Linked DNA regions of Homo sapiens. The protein of the gene in region 3 purifies or fractionates together with the protein of the main gene of each other region. This does not show direct contact. Each region holds a gene or a part of one and is shown on either strand. Other genes may lie near its edges.

Region 1 (3,500 bases), on a different chromosome or scaffold from region 3:
CTTTATTTGTTTTCATTGATTGTATGTCTATTTTTAAAATTTTATTGTGAAACAATTTCAGACTCAAAGATTTGTAAAAATAGCACAAATAATTCTTATGTATCCTATTAAATTACTCCAGATGTTAATGTTTGTCACATTTGCTTTATCATTCTCTCTCTACACACAGTATTCTTTTTTAAAAAAATGAGAGTAGATTGTAGACATGATGTCTTCAACGTCTGCATACTTTAATGTGTATTTCTTAAATGAACATAGATACATTTTATTGTCTATACACAGATTTTATCAGTTGTCCCATTAATGTCCCATATAGCAAAAGACAAATAATTGTTTCGGGTCCAGGATCATACACTGATTTTAGTTATTTCTCTTTAGCCTCTTTTATTTCATTTAATTAATGAATTAATTTATTTTCGAGACAGAGTCTAGCTCTGTCGCTCAGGCTGAGTGCAGTGGCACCAACTCAGCTCAGTGCAACCTCCACTTTTCAGGTTCAAGTGATCCTCCTGCCTCAGCCACCCAAGTAGCTGGGACTACAGGCACATGCCACTGCGCCTGGCTAATTTTTTTTTGTATTTTTGATAGAGACGGGGTTTACCATGTTGGCCAGGCTGGTCTTGAGCTCCTGACCTCAAGTGATCTACCCACCTCGGCCTCCCAAAGTACTGGGATTGCAGGTGTGAGCCACCGCGTCGAGCCTCTTCAGCCTCTTTTAATCAGCAATTCTTCAGTCTTTATTTGCCTTTTCAGGGCCTTGACATTTTTGAAGAGTAAATAATTATTTTGTAGAATGTCTCTCAATTTGTGTATGTCCAGTATGTCCTTAACGGTTAGATTCAGGTTATGCAGTTTTGGCAGCAATTCCACAGAAGTGTTTTTCAGAACATAGTGTCAGTGAAGTTATTATTTTTCCCTTCATAACTAATATATTTCTTGTAGAGAGATACATTGAGACTGTATAGGTATCCTCCTTCTTACACTTTTTGCCCTCCTGTTGTAGCATCCATTGATAATTCTTGCCTGTGACAAGTGATAAGGACAGTATATGATCTTTTCATTCCAACTGTGATGGTTATCAAATGGGGATTTTTTTAAAATGCCATCACTCTGTCTATGTATCTTGTTTGGAATTCTGTAAGTAAGAGCTCTTTTTTTTTCTTTTTTTGTGAGGCAGTGTCTCACTGTGTTGCCCAGGCTGGCCTGAGACTCCTGGGCTCAAGTGATCCTCCTGCCTCAGCCTCCCAAGTAGCTGGAACTACAGCCATGTACCACCATGCCCAGCTCAGGAGGAGCTCATGTTTGTTTGTTTCTTTTTCTTCATATGAACTCATGGTGCCTCTAAATTTTCAATAAATTAGGCATTACTTAGCTTTTGCATGATATTAAGATTTACAGATTTACTCTTATTTGTGTCATAGGAAAGGGAATCATTTAAAACACGAATTCAAAATCCATTGTAATTTGGCTTTGTTGTATTATAATAATAATTATTATTATTTAATTTTATTTATTTATTTTTAGACACAGTCTTGCTCTGTTGCCCAGGCTGGAGTGAAGTGGCACAACCTTGGCTCACTGCAGCCTCCACCTCCCCATTCAAGTGATTCTGGTGCCTCAGCCTCCTGTGTAGCTGGGACTACAGGCATGCACCACCACACCTGGCTAATTTTTGTATTTTTAGTAGAGATGGGTTTTGCTATGTTGGCCAGTCTGGTCTTGAACTCCTGGCCTCAAGTGATCCACCCACCTTGGGCCTCCCAAAGTGTTGAGATTATAGGTGTGAGCCACTGTGCCCATACTGGTGTATTATTTACTCCTATAAAAAATTACTTAGTAGTAAAACCTTATTTTGGTCAGAACCTGCCTGAGTACGTATTGGTATTGGCTAGCCAGGAGGAGAGCAGTAGCAACTGGCAGGAAAATAAACTTGCCTAAAGTTAAAATTTTACTGAAGGAATGAACATACATATAATATTAACTGTCTTCATTACAAACCCAAATGGAATTTGGGGACTTGTGGCATGACAAATCGTGGGTTGTCTTTATTACTAAAAAGGCTTTGTCTTCTGCAAAGACAAATACTAAGATTATAGTATGCTGGTGAAAATATATGTAATTTGTTCCCCAAATAGGCCCTAGATCTTGAATATGTTGAACAAAATATCTTTTACATTGAAGCATCAGATTACTTTCAGCCTTAGGTAATAACATATATATATATATATATTTTTTTTTTTTTTTTGGAGACAAGAGTCTCGCTGTGTTGCCCAGGCCGGAGTGCAGTGGTGCATGATCTCAGCTCACTGCAATCTCCGCCTCCCAGGTTCAAGTGATTCTTCTGCCTCAGCCTCCCAAGAAGCTGGGATTGCAGGTGTGTGCCACCATGCCTTGCTAATTTTTATGTTTTTAGTAGAGATGGGGTTTTACTATATTGGCCAGGCTGGTCTTGAACTCCTGACCTCAAGTGATCCACCCGCCTCAGCCTCCCAAAGTGCTAGGATTACAGGTGTGAGCCACCACGCCCAGCCCACACATGAGTTTTAAACATAAAAACAATTACTTAATGGCCTTGTGAAAATTAGTGTTTTATGAAAATTGGTATTTTACCCCACAGTAAAATAGTAGTAAGGAAAGTGTATTGTTACCTTTTAGTAACTTAGTGAGACACTTAAGTTTCTGTCTTGCATAAAATACTCTTTTAAGATAATTGTTGGATTTGGGATTTGCAGATGGTACTATAAAGTTAGCATTCTTCTTTCTTGGCAATTAGCTAAAAACAACAAAGAGAGGGAAAAACTGACACACAAACCCAGCATTCCACTAAACTAGAAGACAGTTAAAAACCCCAAGCCACAAAATAGGTGGAAATGTTGCCAGGAGCAGTGGCCATCAGGCTGGCTGCATGTGGGAAGAAGTAGGTAGGATGCCGTGGCTGTGGAGCTCAGAGACAACAAGAAACACCCATGAAACTGCAAGGCCCCCCTGAGGTATAAAACCTAAACCCCTTGTTTACAAAAGTGAAGTGGGTTTCTTCAGCTCAAGGCAGGAGCTTTCCTGCACCTGGTTTAATTCTAAGAAGTCGGGGAAATGAAGCCAAACAAGGAGTCACATAAACAAGCCATTTTTGCAGGAAGTAATATGTGTCTATCTCTATAGCAGTTGGGGAGGAGATGACTGCATTGTGAAAAACCTCCAGACTGCCTGTCTGCATTGGCTGTTGAGAAGTAAAATGCTAAACTGTCTCTTAGGTAAATCTCTGAATCACGAAAAAGTTGTCAGTCCAGAACTGGAGGCACTCTGGCCTTCTGCATAAACCTCCTACAAATATCAGGTTCTGGACAACCAGCACTTCTTCAGAGATGAATAATCAAAAGGAATTCATTAAGCTTGACTGCCACAAATGTTTGGAAATAAAAAAGGAAGAAAGAAACAGAAAAACAAAGGACAGATGAAGAACAGTAACCTAAAATATTGCCATAAAGAAGATGAATATTGTG
Region 2 (3,500 bases), on a different chromosome or scaffold from region 3:
CCGAATGTTCTCAGTATAAAGAAAAGATAAACATCTAAGGTAATGGATAGCCCAGTTACCTGGATTTGATTATTATACATTATATGAATGTATCTAAATATCACACATACCCTGAAAATATGTACATCTATTATGTATTAATTAAACAATAATAATACTTTAATAATTTGAAAAATTGGTTCATGGTCTATTAAGTGAACTTCGTATCTCCAGCCTTTCTCAGAGCTCCAAGCTCACACATCCAGCTGTCTACTTGACAAATGTAGCATGTCAAACAGGACTTGACTGTCAAACCCAATCTATTCCACCTCCAGTCTTACATTTCAAACAAGGGGACCCCCATTCTCCTAGCACTCAAGCCAAACACCTAGGAATAATCTTCGATTCTTGATTCTCCTTCACATCCACATCAGATTCATCAGCACCTTCCACATACTTGATCTTCTGAATCCAGCCACCTGCCCCATCCACCCCACAACAATCATACCAGTCAAAAGCACAGTCATTGAGGGCTTGGACTTCCACAATAACTACCAACTTGTCTCCCTGCTCTCATTCCTACCTCCTACAGTCTGTTTACCCTGCAGCAATCAGAAGATCATTTAAAAATATAACCCCTGGTTCAAAGGGCTTCTATCACAGTTAGAACAAAATCCAAGGCTGGACATGATGGCTCACACCTGTAATCTCAGCACTTTGGGAGGCCAAGGCATGAGCATCACTTGAGCCCAGGAGTTGGAGACCAGCCTGAGCAACATAGGGAGACCCTATCTCTACAAAATTTTTAAAATGTAGCCAGCGATGGTGATGCACATCTGCAGTCCCCGCTACTTGGGAGGCTGAAGTGGGAGGAAGGACTGAGCCTGGGAGGTCGAGGCTTCAGTGAGCCATGACAGTGCCACTGCACTGCAGCCTGGGTGACAGAGTGAGACCCTGTCTCAAAAGAAAAAAAAAAAAAAAACTTCAAGTACCTTAGCGTCTTAGCAAAGCCCCCTATGACCAGCTTCTGTCTCCCACTGCGTCCCTCTTCATCCTTTCCCTGCCCACTCCCTGCTCTCCAACCACAGTGGACTCCTTGGGGTTCCAATAACATGCCAAGCATGTTCCCATCCAAGAAGTTTGCATCTGCTGTTCCCTCTGCCTGGCACACTCTTCCCCCAAATATTTCATGGCTTGGCTTCCTCAAGTTAGTAAAACCTCCATGAAAGAGCCTTTGTTGATCATCCCATATCTTTCCCTTGCTCCCCTATGCTCTTTTTGTTTTGGTTGATTTTCATGGCTGTGGTATATTGTGACATTAGATTGTTCATTAGCCCCTCAATAAACCACACCTCCTGGAATCCATAGTCACACTGACTCTGGGCTTATCTATGTAACATGCTCTGGCAAAGAGGACATTAGCAAAGGTTGCAGAACCAGAGGCTTAGGAAGGGCTTGCACACTGGCGCCTGTCCTCTAGGAACACCGTTGCTGCCACCATGTAAGAAACCCGGGCTATCCTGCCAGAAAAGCCATGGAGCAGAGAAGTGAGGCACTGTAGCCAACCACCAGCCATGTGAGCAGGGCCATCTCGGACCCTCCAGCCACAGTTGAGCCATCAGATAAACACAACCACAAGTGAGTCAGGCAAGATCTGCAGAACTGGCCAGCTGAGTCCATACCTAACTGCAGGCATCTGAGCAAATGATGATTGTTTTAAGCTACTAAGTTTTGAGGTAGGTTGTTCTATAGCAATACATAACTGATATGACAGCTTATCATTAGCTGTGGCAGAGACTACTAGCTATTCAGCATATTTTCTTTTTCCTTTTTTTTTTTTTTTTTCTTGAGACAGGTTCTGGCTCTGTCACCGAGGCTGGAGTGCAGTGGTACAATCTCGGCTCACTGCAACCTCTGCCTTCCAGTCTCCAACCATCCTCCCACCTCAGCCTTCCGAGTAGCTGGGACTATAGGCACGTGCCACCACACCTGACTAATTTTTGTATTTTGGTAGATATGGGGCTTCACCACATTGTCCAGACTGGTCTTGAACTCCTGGGTTCAAGCAATCCTCCCACCTTGGCATCCCAAAGTGCCAGGATTACAGGTGTGACCCACCACATCCAGCCTATTCTCTTCTTCCTGAGCTCAGCTAAACTTCATTCTCCATTTTCTTTGCAGTGTTGTGACTAAATGCTAGCTAAGGGAACGCAAGCATAAGGGAATGCACTGATGAGGGCAACTTTGGGAAATAAGGCTTTGTCTTCTCTGCACTTTCTCCCCCTTCTAGATGCACCAATGATAATGCTGCAGAGGGGAAGGGGTCTGGAGCATGAGAGAATGGCCCGCCACCTGCAAACCAAGAACACCCTCCTTGGACTGTTTAGCGAACAAGAAAAAGACATTTAGGGGTCTATTTCTTACAGTCTGTCCTAATTAATACACTAACTTTGCAGCTTCTCTGACCAAGATGGGAGTCTATTTCCCCATCCTCTATACCCAGGCTGGCCATGGGACTTATATTATCTCACAACTCCAGTGGAAGTAACATCCTGTGATTTCCAAATACCAAGACTCCTTGCCACTTTCCCTCTTGCTCTCTAGGAACACTGGAGACCTGTAAGAAACCCAAGCTATCGCACCAACAGGCTGCAGGGAGAGAAAGTCTCAGCTTTCCTATCCTCCTCCCTTTCCACCAGCTGAATGTGGCCACGAGAGGAGCTCAGGCAAGACCAGCAGAACCCTCCAACCAAGCCCAACCCACAGAATCATGAAAATAACAAATTGTTGTCTTAAGCCCAAAGTTTTCCAAACGAAATTAAGTTTAAAGATAGTTCATGACACAGCAATAGAAAATTGAGATGGAATATATGAAGAGCAAAGAAATGATGGGAGGCCAGGCGTGGTGATTACACCGGTAATCCCAGCACTTTGGGAGGCCAAGGCAAGAGGGTGGCTTGAAGCTAGGAGTTTAAGACCAGCCTGGGCAACAAAGCAAGATACTGTCTCTATAAAAAATTTTTAAATTAGCTGGGTGCAGTGACATGTGGCTGTAGTCTCAGCTACCCAGGAGGCTGAGACAGGAGGATCGCTTGAGCCCAGAAGTTCAAGGCTGCAGTGAGCTATGATGGCACCACTGTACTCCAACCTGGGTGACAGAGCAAGACCCTGTCTCTTTAAAAAAAAAAAAAAAAAAAAAGCTACAATACCCTTGCTATACAAGGAGATTCCATACTTGTTCAACCTCAACTCCTAATATTTTTTTCCCCTTGCAATTTAACTAAAACAGAATCCAGCTCAAAACTACCTCTACTTGGCTAGTACTCTCCCATTCTAGTGTCACTTGCTCACCTTAGGATGGTCTCTGTCTTTCAGAGTTTTTCCCCTCTCATCTATCCTACAGCCTAGGGATTAGCAAGCTACAGCCCATGGGCCCAATATGACCCATCGCCTGGGTTTTGTTTTGTTTTGTTTTTTGGGTTTTTTTTTTTTTGAGATGTAGTCTCCCTCTGTCACCCAGG
Region 3 (3,500 bases):
CTGGGCAACGTAGCAAGACCCTATCTCTACAAAAATTACAAAAATTAGCAGCATGTAGTGGTATGCGCCTGTAATCCCAGGAGGCTGAGGTGGGCGGACTACTGGAGCCCAGGAGTTTGAAGTTACGGTGAACTGTATGATTGCACCATTGCACTCCAGCCTTGGTGACAGAGCAAGACCCTGTCTCTAAAAGAAATAAATAAGTAAATAAATAAATATAAAGAAACAAACAAGCTGTTCCCTGCCTTCCCATTCCCTTCATCATTTTATCATGCTGTCTGTCCCCTTTCGTTAAGAATTTTCCCTTCTCTCATCAACATAACTAGTAAACAAATCTCCACCTCTCCTAAATTTACACACTCTAAAAAAGCTGTCAGTGTATGCTTACCATTATATAGCAAGATAAATGATCTCTACAAGCCATATAAGAAAGTCAAAGCCATCCTCACAATGCTACATTATATCTCATTGAGAACCTTGGAGAGTGATATAATGCGACTTCATAGCATAAAGCAACTTCTAGGTGTGTCAAAAAGTTATGAATACAATTATTAGACAAAACATTGCCATTATGGAAGTATCAAACAAAATTATTATTTTGTTTGATACTTACTGGTATGTATGCACAAGATGGGCTTGCATAACAATAAATTTCAATAAACACCTAGCAGCCATCAAAGGTTCTAGAACCAACTTACAAATTCTGGGTTTACCTAATTCTAGTAATGACACACTGAGTAATTTTCACAGCTGCTGAAGCTATAATTAGAGCCCAAAATGAACCTAAATTTCTAAAATGTGAGGAATTATCAATTTCCAAGAAGAGGATTCCGACGCCCTTTGAAAGGACTCAGTACCTTTTAGCATCTTTTACCAGTATCCACATAAAGGATGTTAAATAAAAAGTACTGATGCATTTCCCATTTTTAGATCAAGACTAAGTCATCTTGACATGGGTTACCTGTTAATTCCAGTTCACAAAAACACCACACACACACAAAAGTTCTTACAGCATAATACTGGCATCCTGCCCGCCTTCTGAAAGCACAGGGACCATCAGGATCATTTTCTTCTTCCGGTTCTGATACTGGGGACAATACCTAGACAAAAGAGGCATTCCATTTAGAAGTTATCAAAAGTCAATAGATCAATGTTTGTAATACTCTAAAATGTAAATCTGATCACAAACAGTAAATCACTTCTATATTACATATCATAAGTACTGAATTCCCCAAAACATTCAATGACTAGCAAAAATTTTCTATAGTTAAAAATCATTGTTTTTAATGGATTAGTTCTTTCAGGTTAAGTCTAGATGGCATTGGTATTGCTTGATTGCTTCTAAACATGAAGTGCTAAGTCTTAGAATTAATACAGTTTTTATACATCCCATTATATTTTATAAATAATGTATGTGGCTATAAATATTTAATGACAGTTAAATATTTACTTCACCTATAGGTTAAGTGTATTTTTATCCAATAACTTTATCTCTCTGTAATAAAGCCAAAAGCTAGGACATAAAAACAGCTTATAAACAGCCAAAAAAAATCACCACAACAAAAAAAACCCCAAAGGCCATAAAGGCCAGGTTTTATTCAAAGGAAAGTCTTGTATCTCCCAACTCATTTTTCAAAAATCACTTTTTAAACTTAGCAGATCAGAAGTAGAAAAGAAGAAGAGAAATGACTTGCTAAAGTAAGCACATTGGTTATAGAGAAGAGATAAGCCCGCAACGCTAGAGCAAAAGAATAAAGACTTTCAGAAAGCTGTCACATATTAGAAAGCACTCTTCCCAGGCCATGTCCTATCAGGCCAAATATCCCTATGTAATTGAGTGGACTTCTAGGGCAGTAGCATTGACCTATTAGAGCACGCTTTATAAATGTCACAAAAACAGATTAAATAATATACAAATACACTGAAGATAGGGAAATAATATGTTTTAGATAAATTTCCACCCATAATTATTAAAATTTTTTTAAAAGTTTTGGTACTTAAGTTTCAGTTGTCTCGCACTCTCACTTTGTAGAACATCTCTTTTTCTGATAAACGCTGGCTCAACCATATTTACTTGCAAATTTCTGAACCTCACAAATCCCTCTCTTCCTATTTCGAGAGGAAAAATGTTTTCTCCATATTATTTCCAAACTGTGGTAATTACCACTGAGCAGGGTCATCCAGGGGAGAAAGGTATTTGTTTGAGGTTCCAATATACCTCCACCAACCCTATGGGGGAGACACAGAAACAGTGAGCTGGGGCTGAATCTTCTTCATGGGGAACCAAGCCTCAAACCTGAAATTTGAAAGGAAATCCCAAACGTGAATTTTACACTTTGGTTCCTTTGCAAATAACGTACCTATTCTAAGATATACACAGGAAGTGTCACAAAGTCTCAGAAATTCTGTGTATAAAATCTATCACCCCTTCCTCCTAACTACGATTCCCCGGGGTAGATTCCAGGGGACAAAAGAAGTCTGAGGCATAGGAAGACAAAGCTAATGTTAGGAAAATCGGAAGCACGATCAAGAGGCAGAGTTTTAGCTCTGTTCAGCTGCAATTCAGTGGCATAAGTCTGGTTAAAATGTTTGTTCTCTTAAGGCTCCCTATTCCTTGTTCTTGGTTTATTAGACAAAGAAAAATATGATTACTTTAATGATCTTGTCAGCAATAAAATCCTGATTTTATAAGATGTACACTCTGAATAGCTGCCTCACTGAATGACGCCCAAATATAGGTAAACATTAATACTTACTCTTTAGTAATATGGAGATACCATAAAATTAATGAGGATTGTCTAAGACCTAATACAAACAATCAGAAGAACCTAAAAGTTTCAAAATGCAATTTTCATGTGGGTATGGGAACTGGAAACTATATAAATCAATGCAAGAATTTGGAGCAGAAATGAAGATCCCTTAATGCATGAGAAACATATGAGTAGTTATGCTGAGTGAGCTCTACTTTCAGGCTGGATGTACTGATTCCACCGATAAAAGTTTCTGTAGGTCATAGCACCCTACAGTATCATTCATTTTTTTTTTTTTTTTTTGAAACAGGGTCTTGCTCTGTCGCCCAGGCTGGAGTACAGTGGTGCAACCTTGGCTCACAGCAACCTTCATCTCCCTGGCTCGAGCAATCCTCCCGCCTCAGCCTCCGGAGTAGCTGGGACTACAGGCATGTGTCACCACGCCTGGCTAATTTTTCTACGTTTGTTTCTGTTTTTTCGGTAAAGATGGGGTTTCACCATGTTGCCCAGGCTGGTCTCCAAGTCCTGGGCTCAAGCAATCCACCTGCTTCGGCTTCCCAAAGTGCTGGGATTACAGGCATGAGCCACAATGTCCAGTCTACAGCATCATTCTTAAAGGGCTGGAAATATATAGCAAAACTTTCTAGGCTCTCATTAGTACCACCAATATAAGCCTATTATACAAATATTTATCTAACTATGTCATTTTCTTACTTAACATTTTAAATAATTTCCCAGTATGTATGATGT

Evidence for each region.
Region 1: the proteins of EPC2 (region 3) and RAB18 purify together in Homo sapiens (co-immunoprecipitation; one large-scale study listed by IntAct). This does not show direct contact.
Region 2: the proteins of EPC2 (region 3) and KSR2 purify together in Homo sapiens (co-immunoprecipitation; one large-scale study listed by IntAct). This does not show direct contact.

Annotation. Positions count from the first base shown.
Region 1 is NC_000010.11:27,510,804-27,514,303, forward strand, and holds part of RAB18 (ras-related protein Rab-18), read left to right. Parts: intron 1-3,500. UniProt on the Homo sapiens protein: The small GTPases Rab are key regulators of intracellular membrane trafficking, from the formation of transport vesicles to their fusion with membranes.
Region 2 is NC_000012.12:117,958,991-117,962,490, forward strand, and holds part of KSR2 (kinase suppressor of Ras 2), read right to left. Parts: intron 1-3,500. UniProt on the Homo sapiens protein: Location-regulated scaffold connecting MEK to RAF. Has very low protein kinase activity and can phosphorylate MAP2K1 at several Ser and Thr residues with very low efficiency (in vitro).
Region 3 is NC_000002.12:148,766,751-148,770,250, reverse strand, and holds part of EPC2 (enhancer of polycomb homolog 2), read right to left. Parts: intron 1,101-3,500; coding exon 1,011-1,100; intron 1-1,010. UniProt on the Homo sapiens protein: May play a role in transcription or DNA repair.